Homo sapiens: one gene and its partner. The protein of the gene in region 2 interacts with the protein of the main gene of each other region in a biochemical or structural test. Each region holds a gene or a part of one and is shown on either strand. Other genes may lie near its edges.

What was found.
Region 1: the proteins of CEP350 (region 2) and PPARD form a complex in vitro, tested with the Homo sapiens proteins (one study listed by BioGRID).

The regions. Positions count from the first base shown.
Region 1 is NC_000006.12:35,345,558-35,352,557, forward strand, and holds part of PPARD (peroxisome proliferator-activated receptor delta), read left to right. Parts: intron 1-1,509; 5' UTR 1,510-1,580; coding exon of another isoform or gene 1,581-1,593; intron 1,594-2,805; exon of another isoform or gene 2,806-3,446; intron 3,447-6,020; exon of another isoform or gene 6,021-6,139; intron 6,140-7,000. UniProt on the Homo sapiens protein: Ligand-activated transcription factor key mediator of energy metabolism in adipose tissues. Receptor that binds peroxisome proliferators such as hypolipidemic drugs and fatty acids.
Region 2 is NC_000001.11:179,950,521-179,957,869, reverse strand, and holds the start of CEP350 (centrosome-associated protein 350), read right to left. Parts: upstream 3,061-7,349; 5' UTR 2,767-3,060; coding exon of another isoform or gene 2,728-2,766; intron 2,649-2,727; exon of another isoform or gene 2,452-2,648; intron 1-2,451. UniProt on the Homo sapiens protein: Plays an essential role in centriole growth by stabilizing a procentriolar seed composed of at least, SASS6 and CPAP. Required for anchoring microtubules to the centrosomes and for the integrity of the microtubule network.

The sequences.
Region 1 (7,000 bases), on a different chromosome or scaffold from region 2:
ACTGCTCGTTCAGGTGCCTTTCTCCTTGCCTCTTCACCATGGCCTTCTTGTGTGATATATGCCTTAACCCATTCAGGAAGAATTGCTCCTACTCAGCCTTTCAACCCGACCTGTGGTCCCTTAGACGCCTTCCCTTAGGGCCTGGTAAGAGGATAGACAGTGTAGAGCACTAGCCTGGGAAGCCATTAGGCCTCTGCTTTGGGCCTACAGCTGTCCTGACTGTTGTGCAAGCTGTCTTCAGGGCCTGCAGATTCTGGCACATCCTGGGATAGTGCAGCTCCTCTCTCTCAGGAGTTGGACCTGTCACTTTTTTTTCGTTTTTTTTTTTTTTTTTTTTGAGATGGAGTCTCGCTCTGTCGCCCAGGCTGGAGTGCAGTGGTGCGATCTTGGCTCACTGCAAGCTCCATCTCCCAGGTTCACGCCATTCTTCTGCCTCAGCCTCCTGAGTAGCTGGGACTACAGGCGCCCGCCACCACGCCTGGCTCATTTTTTTTTGTAGTTTTAGTAGAGACAGGGTTTCACCGTGTTAGTCGAGATGGTCTCGATTTCCTGACCTCGTGATCTGCCCGCCTCAGCCTCCCAAAGTGCTGGGATTACAGGCGTGAGCCACCACAACCAGCCTGGACCTGTCACTTCTAAGGGCTTCAGCTATATCCTGTCCCTGAGGCCCACCTCCCTGAGTGCTCTCTGCAGGCTGGGAAGCTGAACAGTGGTGCCTTGCTCCAGTGCCTCTGAAGGGCTTGGAAATTGCAGGACACAGCTTTACTGCTCAGCATTGCCCACACTGGAAACATTCTCTTCCTCCCTACCCAGGTCTCTGTGGGCTTTGTCCGTTCTGCCAGGCCCTTGCTTATATGATGTCAGAAGCCCTGTGCCCGGTGCCATTGTCAATGCCATGTCCCAGATTACCTAATGGCTGCTTCTTGGAGATGGTTTGGTGTCCATGCACATTTTTCTCTGCCGTTGGAGCCAGGGTGAGGAGCTGCTTGCAACAGCTGGATTCCAGGGTGTCAGAGGAGCCCTTGGAGCTTGCCTTGAGCCTGGCAGGGAGAACATGGCCCCTTGCATCAGGTTTCAGACATATGGGTCTTCTTCCTTGGCAGATGGCTCCTAGCCTTCATAACTCAGCAGGCTGGTGATTGGCATGTGACTCCAGTTCATTCTGCAGGGGCTTTGGTGAAGGCATCAACTATGACTCAGGACATCTTCATTTATGAGCTTCTACCCAGCTCCCTTCTTACCTTGCCTGCGCCTTCTGCGCCGACCTGATAAAATCAGCAAAGCCAGTGTCTGCTTACTTGGGAGTGAGCAGACTCCTTCCAGGATTGGGGAAATATTTGCTGACTCAGGCTCAGAATCACATCTCAGGGTGGTGTGTAAGGGACCGACGAGGAGCCAGATTACCTTAGGAACACTCTTTGAGTTACGGTGGGTATAACTTATTAGAGTTGCTTTGAGGGCCCCTGGCACCTGTCAGCTAAAGCTGTTGGGGTTTTTTCTATCCTGCAGTGTTGTACAGTGTTTTGGGCATGCACGTGATACTCACACAGTGGCTTCTGCTCACCAACAGATGAAGACAGATGCACCAACGAGGTAATCCCATTTTCTTTACTCAGGGGTCTCTGACCACCACTGACACAGGATCCAGATTTAAGATCCTGACCTTGAAGATGAAATAATTTCACTAGGGCTTATTCCCAGATTCCAGGTTCCTGTCACAGCATCTGGTACCAGTTGCTTATGCATAGTATAGGCATTTATTAAGTAATTATTGAAAGTCTATGGCTTACATAGTTTTTTCAGGAGCATGGAGATTCCCACCTTTGCGCCCATTAAAAGATAAACTCCACAGGGCAGGGAGTTGTTTTGCTGCCTGTTGTGTCTAGGATAGTGCCTGGCACAGAGGAGATAATGAATAAATTTTTGTTGAATGAGTAAATGAACGAACTTTCGTCTTTGCCTATATGGGTACCTAGGGTGCCAGGCCACAAAGATGGTGTCCATCATTCTCTCTTATTAGGGGGCAAATATATATATATATATATATTTTGTTTGTTTGTTTGTTTTTGAGACGAAGTCTTGCTCTTGTCCCCCAGACTGGAGTGCAATGGCGTGATCTTGGCTCACTGCCACCTCCTTCTCCTGGGTTCAAGTGCTTCTCCTGTCTCAGCCTCCCAAGTAGCTGGGATTATAGGCACCTGCCACCACGCCCGGCTAATTTTTGTATTTTTAGTAGAGATGGGGTTTCACCATGTTGGCCAGGCTGGTCTGGAACTCCTGACCTCAGGTGATCCGCCCGCCTCAGCCTCCCAAAGTGCTGGGATTACAGGCGTGAGCCACCGCACCTGGCCTTTTTTTTTTTTTTTTGAGATGGAGTTTCGCTCTTGTTGTCCAGGCTGGAGTGCAATGCCGTGATCTCGGCTCACTGCAACCTCCGCCTCTTAGGTTCAAGCGATTCTCCTACCTCAGCCTCCTGAGTAGCTGAGATTACAGGCATGCGCCACCACATCTGGCTAAATTTTGTATTTTTAGTAGAGACGGGGTTTCACCATGTTAGCCAGACTGGTCTCAAACTCCTGATGTCAGATGATCTACCCGCCTCAGCCTCCCAGAGTGCTGGGATTACAGATGTGAGCCACTGTGCCCAGCCGGGAACAAATATTTTTAAGTGCCAACTATGTGCCAGGCACTTGGGAAATGATAATAGTAAAAAACAGATCCAATCTCTGCCTCATGGGTCTGTGGTTTGCTGGTATATATGAGAGCTGGCCATAACACACAGAATTGTTTCTTCCATCTCTGCAGGGGTAGGAGGTTCTCACCAAGAGTCTGAACAATGCTCTGGGTTCCCATTGCTGTTTCCATGTTCTCAGGATGCCTGGCAGGTTTTATAAACTCTCAGAAGTGGAGCTCCAGGGAATACAATGTTCATTGTCCTATTTGGAAGGCTGGGTTGTTGTGGGTCCCTGCTGGGGGCCGGGGAAACGTGGGCCTCCTGCCTGATTTGTTTTAATCTCTGAAGTTCAGTGGTTCCAGTAGCTGTTTGTGGGCTTCACTTCCCCTTCTCTGCCTTTAACACCCTGCAGGTTTTCCTGTTGTCAGACAGGGTGGTGAGTCCCTGTGTCTCTCTGTCTGTGGGGGTCAGGTTGTTTGTAGATCTTTCAGGAAGGTCCTGGGTGGGGGGCCCTCCTGCTTTCAAACCCATACCAAGTGCTTTCCTCTGAAGGGAATGTGAGGGAGGAAGAAGGGGGGAGTTTCAGAGACTTCTGAGGTTCCCCAAGAGGGAAGAGGTCAAAGTACCTCCTGAGCGGGGAGAGCTACTGAGTTGAACTGATTTGCTTTGCCATTTGCTTTAGCAGCAGCCAGGCCCAGTGGCAGCAATTGTACGTGCATTTCCAGGGGTCAGTTGTCCAGTTCATCCCTGAGCCTTGAGCTCCCAGTCGCAGGTAGGAACTTCTCTTCTCCTTTCTTTTTTTTTTTTTTTTTGAGACGGAGTCTCGCTCTGTCACCCAGGCTGGAGTGCAGTGGCGCGATCTAGGCTCACTGCAAGCTCTGCCTCCTGGGTTCACACCATTCTCCTGCCTAAGCCTCCTGAGTAGCTGGGACTACAGGCGCCCGCCACCACGCCCGGCTAATTTTTTGTATTTTTAGTAGAGACGGGGTTTCACCGTGTTAGCCAAGATGGTCTCGATCTCCTGACCTCGTGATCCACCGGCCTCGGCCTCCCAAAGTGCTGGGATTACAGGCGTGAGCCACCGCGCCCGGCCTCTTCTTTCTTTCTTGATTGGGTACTGCTATATCACCTAGGACCAGGGGTGTGTCCAATCTTTTGGCATCCCTGGGCCACATTGGAAGAAGAATTATTATCTTGGGCTATACATAAAATACACTAACACTAACAATAGTGATGAGCTAAAAATAAAAATGGCAAAAGAATCTCATGTTTTAATAAAGTTTACGTATTTGCGTTGGGATGCATTCAGAGCTCTCCTGGGCTGCATGCAGTCATGGGCCATGGGTTGGATAAGCTTGGCCTCCCTAGGCAGTCCTCTCACCACAGCCTCCCAAGTAGCTGGGACTACAGGTGCACACCACTGTGCCTGGCTAAGTTTTTTTTTTGTTTGTTTTTGTTTTTTTTTAATTTAATGGGTACATAGTAGTAGGTGTATATTTCTTTTTTTCTTTTCTTTTTTGTTTTTTTGAGATGGAATCTTGCTCTTGTCACCCAGGCTGGAGAGCAATGGCACAATCTTGGCTCCCTGTAACCTCCACCTCCTGGGTTCAAGCGATTCTCCTGCCTCAGCCTCCCAAGTAGCTCAGATTACAGGCGCCCGCCACCACGCCCAGCTAATTTTTGTATTTTTAGTAGAGATGGGGTTTTGTCATGTTGGCCAGGCTGGTCTCGAACTCCTGACCTCAAGTGATCTGCCTGCCTCAGCCTCCCAAAATGTTGGGATTACAGGCATGAGCTACCACACCCGGCCTTGTATGTCTTCTTTTGAGAAATGTCTATTAAAATCTTTTGCCCATCCTTTTATTAGATTATTCGTTTTTTTCCTATAGAGTTGTTTGAGCTCGTTATATATTCTTGTTATTAACCCCTTGTGAAATGGGTAGTTTGCAAATATTTTCTCTCATTCTGTGGGTTGTCTCTTCACTTTGTTGATTGTTTCCTTTGCTGTGCAGAAACTGTTTAATGTGATGTGATCCCATTTGACCATTTTTGCTTTGGTTGCCTGTGCTTGCGGGGTATTGCTCAAGAAATTTTTGCCCAGACCAGTGTCCTGGAGATTTTCTCCTGTTTTCTTGTAGTACTTTCATGGTTTGAAGTCTCAGATTTAAGTCTTTATTTTGATTTGGTTTTTGTGGATGGCAAGAGGTAGGGGTCTAGTTTCATTCATCTCCATATGAATATCCAGTTTTCCAAGCACCATTTATTGAAGAGACTGTCTTTTCCTCAGTGTATGTTCTTGGCACCTTTGTCAAAAGTGAGTTCACTGTAGATGTGTGGATTTGTTTCTGGGTTCTCTATTCTGTTCCATTGGTCTATGTGTCTTTTTTTTTTTTTTTTTTTTTTCTCTGAGACAGAGTTTTGCTCTGTTGCCCAGGATGGAGTGCAGTGGCGTGGCGTGATGTTGGCTCACTGCAGCCTCTGCCTCCCGTGTTCGAGCAGTTCTCCTGCCTCAGTCTCCCAAGTAGCTGGGATTACAGGCATGTGTCACCATGCCTGGCTAATTTTTTGTGTTTTTAGTAGAGATGGGGTTTCACCATGTTGGTCAGGCTGGTCTTGAACTCCTGACCTCAGGTGATCTGCCCACCTCGGTCTCCCAAAGTGCTGGGATTACAGGCATGAGCCACCGCGCCTGGGCGAAAGATGGCTTATTTTGAAGTCAACTTTAGAATATTATAAAACAGCATTCTCAAACTTTTTGGCCTCAAGATCCCTTTAGATTCTTTTTTTGTTTGTTTGTTTGTTTTTGTTTTTTGAGACGGAGTCTCTCTCTGTCACCCAGGCTGGAGTGCAGTGGCACAATCTCGGCTTACTGCAAGCCCCGCCTCCCGGGTTCATGCCATTCTCCTGCCTCAGCCTCCCGAGTAGCTGGGACTACAGGTGCCCGCCACCACGCCCAGCTAATTTTTTGTGTTTTTAGTAGAGACGGGGTTTCACCATGTTAGCCAGGATGGTCTCAATCTCCTGACCTCGTGATTCACCCGCGTCGGCCTCCCAAAGTGCTGGGATTACAGATGTGAGCCACTGCGCCAGTCCCTTTAGATTCTTAAAAATTATTGAAGACCCCAAGGGCTTATGTTTACCATGTTAGAAGTTATAATAGGCCGGGCGGGTGACATTCGTTAATATCACCACTGATCTCATTTTTAAAAAGTCTTTAAGTATTGGGAAGCTGTCGGGCTCACAGTGGTCAATACACGTTTTCTAAATTTGAGTTTTCTCTTGAAAGTTTGATTTTTATCATTGGTAACATACTGTTGGTTCTTTTGTTTGATTTTGTCTGAGATAGCATCTCCCTCAGTCACCCAGGCTGGAGTGCAGTGGTGCAGTCATAGCTCACTTGCAGCCTCCAACTTCTGGGCTCAAGTAATCCTCCTGCCTCAGCGTCCAGAGTAGCTAGGACTACAGGTATGTGCTACCATGCCCAGCTCATTTTAAAATTTTTTGTAAAGATGGTGTCTTGTGATCTTGCTACATCGACCAGGCTGGTCTTGAATTCCTGGCCTCAAGTGATCCATCTGCCTCAGCCTCCCAAATTACTGGGATTATAGGCATGAGCCACCACACCCAGCCTTTTTTTTTTTTTTTTTTTTTTTTGATATGGGGTCTCACTCTTGCCCAGGCTTGAGTGCGGTGGCACAGTCTTGGCTCACTGTATCTAGCCTTGACTTCCAGGCTCAAGTGATCCTTTCATCTCAGCCTCCCAAGTAGCTAAGACTACATGCATGCACCATCATGCCCACCTCATTTTTTAACTTGTTGTAGAGATCAGGTCTCCCTGTGTTGTCCAGGCTGGTCTCAAACTCCTGAGCTCGAGCCATTCATTCCTGCCTTGGCCTCCCAAAGTGCTGGGATTAAAGGCATGAGCCACTGTGCCCAGCCAGTTCTTTTTTGTTTTGTTTTGTTTTGTTTTGAGATGAAGTCTCACTCTGTCACCCAGGCTAGAGTGCAGTGGTGTGATCTCGGCTCACTGCAACCTCCGCCTCGTGGGTTCAAGTGATTCTTCTGCCTCAGCCTCCCAAGTAGCTGGGACCACAGGCGCGCACCCCAATGCCCGGCTAATTTTTGTATTTTTTTAGTAGAGATGGGGTTTCACCATATTGGTCAGGCCGGTCTCGAACTCCTGACCTCATGATCTGCCCACCTCAGCCTCCCAGAGTGCTGGGATTACAGGCGTGAGCCACCGCGCCCGGCCACAAAGAATATTTAAAAGACAGATATCAAAGGTGGAGATTTTAATAAAGTTAGTTTTTATTTATTCATCTAGGA
Region 2 (7,349 bases):
TAGTATAACAGGTTAGGGTCTTAAAGTTTATATTTTCTTTAAATTACCGTAACCTGTTGCCAGAGCACCTAGGCAAATCATTAAAATAGTAAATGAAGTTTCCACTGTGGCTTATTCCCAGTGGCTTTTTAATCCCAGGCTGTCATTCCCTTGCTACCCAGCAAATCTGAGCATATCTCTGGAATATATTCCCAAGAGTTGAGGTGTGCTTAGGAACTAAGAACTAGTCTTTTGTTTTGTTTTGCATTTAAAATATTATTCTGGGACTATTCTTTAGTCAATTTCTTCAATTAGTATTTATTGACTATGTTACCATATGCTAGGCACTGGGTGCATAATAGTGATTAAAGGATCTCTGCCATCATGGAACTTACAGACCAGATGAGAAAGGCAAAGAATAACTCAAAATAACCACAAGTAAATGTAAAATCACACTTATGATAACAATGAACAACAACAACAACAAATCAATACAGAAAAAAATACTATGCAATCTGATGATTTTTTTACACTATAACACTAAAATTTGCCTCATGTTGCAAAAATAACAATCACAATTATATGCAGAGAATTAACTTTTTAAATCATCAGTTGTCTCAACAATAAAATCATCAAGATATTACTACTTTTCAGTTATGTTACTGATCATGTGGCTTGAATGTTTGTTTTACATAACTAAGAGTATAAATGACTGAAAGAATAAAGATGACAGAACTGAGTATCCAAAGTGAAAGATAATAAATGAACTACACTTTAATAATCTTGTTCAAGCAAAAAGTATATACATAAAGAAGTAAGTGATCCATCATAATTCATGACTTGTCAATAATTAACAAAACGTTATAAAAATACTAATGTTTTTAAAGAACTGACGATCATCAGCATAAGGGGCAAGTGGCATGTAAAAAGGAACAAAAATAGAATAATTTTTTAATATTTTAAAATAACACCAAATGCCAGAGCACCTATATTAATATTTAGTTTAAAATAAAAATAATTCCACATTATCTGCAGAAATGAGAGGCATTCACATAAATGATCTTCCTTGTGTGTCAGTTTCCACGACTGCAAAATAAGGATATCTGCCATACCTACTTCACAAGATCACTGTGAAAACTAAATAAAATAATGTATATAGAAGCACACCAAAAACTGATGTCAGTTATTTTAGACTTCTTTTTTGCTCCCACTATAAATTATAGCAATTTAACAAATAAAATTGATTATAGCAGTACTTCATCTCCTTTCTTCTGCTCATATATGGTAGAAGTGTTATAAAATGGGCAAAAGACTGACAATCAGAAGCAGAAGGAAAAAATCCAAAAACTTTATAATTCATAAATTGATTGCCCCACAGAAGGTTGGCTGTTTAAGTATTAACGCTCTTACATGACACACACACCAATTTATCTCAGAAAATCAAAGAAATATGTTCACATACGTATGAAATTTTTTACATATACAACTTGCCATCTCTACATACACAAAATTTTGCTACTGAGGATGAAGAGATACAGAGATACACATGTATTTATCCACATATACAATGTATTCTAGCTTGAAGTTTATTTTCAGATTACAGTATCTTAAATTTAATGCACTGACAGTTCAAATGATTCAGATTTATTTCATTACATTAAATAAAATTTGTCAATTTAGCACACCGAAACTAATTATTATACGCCCATGGCTTTGAAGCAACTTCCAGCATGGGTCTAACAATCCCTCAAAGTCACAATTCCATGTCATTAGCAGTGCATTTCCTTGTTTAAAAACAATATATTAAACGAAGAAATTTTCAGAATGGAGGGCAACTTTTAGTATTTTATCATTGTTTCTACAGAACTTTTCAGATTGTTACTAGCTCTGCCAAAGATAGTCTTTCTTTTAAAACTCTTCAAATACAGGGCAGGAGGTATCGTTAACATGGCAACAATAACGACTTCCCCAAATTCAAAACAAGGATCACCATCAAAACAAAACAATCAGGTGGAGTACATGGATATTGATCACTATTTCTGACAACCTGTTTTTTCCCATATGAAGGATTTGCTACTGCATTAAAACATTAAAATCTATGCCTATGTGCAACTTTCTATCTGAATATTTAAAATCCAGGCAAATTCCAATTCATATCTTGTGACATTAGCTAAATATTACTTAGCATGTTGAGCTGCATTTAAAAGGCAGAGGAAAATACTGACAACTTCCAAAACATAAAGCCTTTTAAATCTTTCCCCAAATTATCTGTGAATAAACTACCTTCAGCAGCCGCTAGACTAGAGTAGATCAAAGTTTTCCCTATACTTGAGAATGTGATCCCCACTGAAAAGGAACAGAAACTGATCATCCCTGCCACTGGAGCCAGTCCCCGGAATCTCCCCAAATACGCCTGATCGCCAGATGAAGAAGGGACACTTCTCCGGGCAGCAAAGGCTAGAGGTATCTTACCTCTGCAGGCTAGAGGAGGGGTGGAGGAGGCGGGAGGACACTGGCACGTAAGGAAGGAAATTCCGTCTTCAGCAGGCACTGGTGGGACCCGAAACCTAGGTCCCCGAAAAGCCTCAGAACCCAGGGAGGTTCCCCGAGGGGGACGCCAAGCAGGGCCAAGACTCTCCGCGCCCGGCCCCGCCTCTCTTGCCGCCACCGGGGACCCGGGACCGCGGACAGAGACAGTTGAGGCTGAGCGAGACTCCGCGGTCCCAGCCAGGTCCTACAGGAGCTCACCTGAGAGTGTCGCCTCCGCCCTCGGCTACCACGGTGCATCCCGCGGAGCCTGGCGGAGGGTGCAGTGACGCCGCCCCGACCGGCCCCAGGGCTGCCCGGCCTGGCCTCCCCGCTCCGGGGACGCACCGGGTGCCCTCCTCGCACCGGCTCCGGGGATCCGCCGGTCCGCTGGGAAGGAAGACAAGGCGGAAAGGCTGCCTCCCCTCCCTCAGGGCAAGCCACCCCCCGAGCTGCGGCTCCCTGCAGTTCTCTCTGGCGCAGGTCTGGCCCCGCTCCCCGGCCCGGGAGTCACTTCGTCAGGGGCGGCCCAGTCGCCATTACAGCCCAACAACTGACACGGAGGAGGAGCGGCGCCAGCGGCAGCGGCTGTGGCGGCGGCGCGAGGCAGGGCGGGAGCAGTCGGGCCCAGGCAAACCTCGCGAGAACTGTCCCGAGACAGTGCCACAGGCATGCCAACCTTCGGTTAGGGCCATGTTGAGTGTGGCCGAAAGGTGGGAGCGAAATAAAACAAGGAGCAGAACCGCGAAGAAGCCATGTTTGGTGCGTCGAAGTTTAAACTCGTAGGACTTGGGAGGAGCCAAGGTATATCCGCAGAAGAGACCACCCCTGCCCTTTCGCTTTGACGCTCATTGGGCCTTTTGGCTGCGCATTTCACCCCGGGCTGAGAAAACAAGCTGGGGATTCGACAAGAATGAACTCAAAGTCTGGAAACGGCAGCTTCTGAGAGTTTACAATGTTTCACCAACTGTCGTCCAAATAAGTCGTCACCCCTGTCAGAGTAGTTGCAGCTCTGCCGTTACCCACTGCTGTCACTGTGGCCGTTTTATTCGCGAGGGTTACAGTTCTGTTTAGCATGCATCTAATGACTTAAGACTCCACGCAAGTAAAACGGAGTTTCCTCCCATTAAGTATTGGCTTTGCTTTAACAGTGCTTTGAGAGGCTCTCTGTGGCCAACATATCTTCTCATATCTTTGTCCTCGTTTCCCAATCTCCGCGTGGTGAAATCATCTATCAAGACTTGGCTTAAAGGACCTCTCTTCTGCAAATAATGCCATCTTCCGCTAGGTGCTCACTGCACACAGACTCGCCGCCCACCACTTCTGTCCACCTTCTGAACTCCGATAGTTATTTACCCAGAGACTGTTTCTCATCTTTAAGTGTCGTGAAGACTTTAAGATCTGTTTTATCTCTCTATACCCCAAAATGGCCTAGCACAGTAACTAGGACATTGTAGGTGCTCAATAAATGTTTGTCGAATATCAATGACAGCAGGAGGCAGTAAATGGTCCCTCTTTGTAGGGCCTACAGCTGTGCCTGAGTAGGATGTACAGAAGTCCTGCATACGTGTGAAGTGTCTCCAGGAAGCTGCACTGGAGGGGACAGGAAATGTGGGTAATCGTATGGTGCAAGTGGTAGCAAAAAAGACAACATAAGGAAAATGTTATTTAGGTTTTGCCCAGTCTTGCTGTTTAAAGCCCTGTGTTAGATGCTTTTCATGCGCTATTTTACTGAATGTAAACAACCACCTTATTAAATATACTCACTTTTTTAAAACGAAGAAACACGTACTGGCCGGTCACAGTGGCTCACGCCTGTAATCTCAGCACTTTGCGGGGCCGAGGCGGGTGGATCACGAGGTCAGGAGTACAAGACCAGCCTGGCCAAGATGGTGAAACCCCGTCTCTACTAAAAATACAAAAATTAGCCGGGCGTGGTGGCGGGTGCCTGTAATCCCAGCTACTCGGGAGGCGGAGGCAGGAGTATCGCTTGAACCTGCGAGGCGGAGGTTGCAGTGAGCCGGGATCGCACCACTGCACTCCAGCCTGGGCAACAGAGTGAGACTCCATCTCAAAAAAATAAAAAAAAAGAAAGAAAGAAAGAAAAAGAAACAAGTACTGAAAAAGCTAAGTAATTTGCCCAATTTTATACCATCAATAAAAGGGAGCTGTAAGCTTTGGGATCTGCTTTGCCCCAAAGCCTGTTTATACTTTTTCAGCCCCATGCTATCCCCTTGACAACAGAGAAGACACCAAAGTTCTGTCACTGTGCTCAGAGCAGGGTTACCCTGGTATCAGCCTATGCACAATTTCTACTTCTTATACCTTGTGTTGGTCTGTCTTCTCCTCGCCTCCTAAATTCCCCAAGCACATCAATGTCTTTCTTTTCTAATATCCCGTTACTCTTGTGTTTACCCTACAGATTGGCCCTGAATCTATCAAGTTTTGTACTAGTTGCATATAGTTTCATGAGAGTAATTAATCTCTGGAACAAGATTGGAGGTTTACTGTGGAAAGGTTTGTGGCCCTTCCCAGACGTCTCCGCAGTGTTAGGCCGGTAATAGGTATTCAATATGGCTCCCTTGTTTCTCCTACTTTTTAGTAGACACTAAGATTGCATTTTTCTTTATATTCTTTGTTGATTACTGTGGCCTTGACTCTCACCACTCTTTGGATAACTGGATCTTGGCCCTAGACTAAATCTCCAATTACCCGTTACCCATCTTCACATAGATACAGAAGTCACCAGCACCTTCAGCTCCCATATTAAGGTTATCATTTTTCCTCCCTCAGTCTCACAAAGCCAGCTCCTCCTCGTTTCCTCTGTATTTCTGTTCATGGCCGTCACAGAACACTCTTCTGAGAACTAAGAGAACCAAAGTTTCAGAAATATTATATACTCCTCTGTACGCCTTGCTCCCACCCAGTTATGAAGTCTCTAAATACCACTGATGCATATTTCTTATATGTACTTCCCTTTTGTCTGATTGCACCACTGCCTTCCTAATTTAGACTGTCATTTCTACTGCCCAAATGATTATAGTAGTATTTCCACAGTTCAGCTTGAGTTTTGTCTCTATCATGTCTCTACCTGCCAAGGTAAGTAAAAACTTTTCGCCTCAGCCATCAAGGCTTTTCTCAGTATGGCACCAACCTAACTTTCCATCTCCCTTAAGTAAGACAGCACAATAAAGTAGAAAGGGCAGGAATGTGACATCAGAAAGACACTTATTCAAATCTTGGCTCTATCACTTACTTGCCTTATGACCCCTCAAGAACCTCAATCTTCTTGTCTATATCAAGGCTAATGATATCTACCCTGTAGGGTTGTCTTAAAGATTAGAAATAATACCTGTCAAGAGCTTGACGTTAAAAGACAGAAATAAACGGTAGCTAATGTCACGAAATGGGAAGTGATACACTGACTGAGAATGTTACATTCAAGCCACACTGGATCGGAGAAACAACCTGTTCATTCCTACCTCTAGGCCTTTGTTTCCTAACCTGGAACACATATTACCCCAGCTCGCAATTTCTGCCACATTCTCTAAGTGCCAACTGAGAAGCTAACTACTACAGAAAAAAATCCTTGATTGCTCATACTTTCCAGGTGCTCTTCCACCCCTGAACTGTGTGATGCTGTGTCTCCTGCATAGAGCGGTATCTACTATCAGTATTTCTGCATGTATCTTATACATCATGATCATGTTAGATTCTAAGGACCTTTGTCTCCTTCATAGTGGATTAAAAGCATGAATTCTGCACATAGTGAATGACATCATTACATCGCCAAAGCTATATCTATTTCTTAATTCGTTGTCTAGAGATCAATATCAAATTTTGCATTCCCAGGAAAGAAAACATAGCTATTCACCTAGAATTTAAATTCTGGGTTTAAACCTTGGCTGAGGCCGGGTGCGGTGGCTCACCCCTATAATCCCAGCACTTTGGGAGGCCAGGGTGGGTGGATCAGTTGAAGGCAGGAGTTCGACACCAGACTGGCCAACATAATGAAACCCCATCTCTACCAAAAATACGAAAAATTAGCCGGGCATGGTGGTGAACGCCTGTAGTCCCAGCTACTTGGCAGGCTGAGGCATGAGAATCAGTTGAACCCAGGAGGCAGAGGATACAGCGAGCCAAGATTGCACCACTGCATTCTGGCCTGGGTGATGGAGTGAGACTCTGTCTCAAATAAATAAATAAATAAAGCCTGGCTGAGCTACTTACTAGCCATATAACTTTGGTCAGGGTACTTAACCTCTTCGTGACTCAGTTTCCACTTCTGTATAGTGGAGATTGCAATGGTACCTACCTCACTGGGTTGTGTAAGAAAAGAAATAACACATGTAGAGGAATATAAAATGTGTTCAGAATATACAAATATATAGAGACAGAAGGTAGATAAGTGATTGCCTGGGGCAGAGAAGTGGAATAGACATAGGGGAGGGGAGGAGAAATGGGAAATGACTACTAGTGGTTATGGAGTTTCCTTTTATTTTGAGAGGGAGTCTCGCTCTGTCGCCCAGGCTGGAGTGCAATGGCATGATCTCAGCTCACTGCAACTTCTGCCCCCCAGGTTCAAGCGATTCTTCCGCTTCAGCTTCCTGAGTAGCTGGGATTACATGCTATCCGCCATCATGCCCTACGAATTTTTGTATTTTTGTAGAGACGAGGTTTCACCATGTTGTCCAGGCTGGTCTTGAATTCCTGACCTCAGGTAATCTGCCCACCTCAGCCTCCCAAAGTGCTGGGATTACAGGCATGAGCCACTGTGCCTGGCCTTTTTCTTTTCTTCTTACAGAGTTTCGCTCTTGTTGCCCAGGCTGGAGTGCAATGGTGCG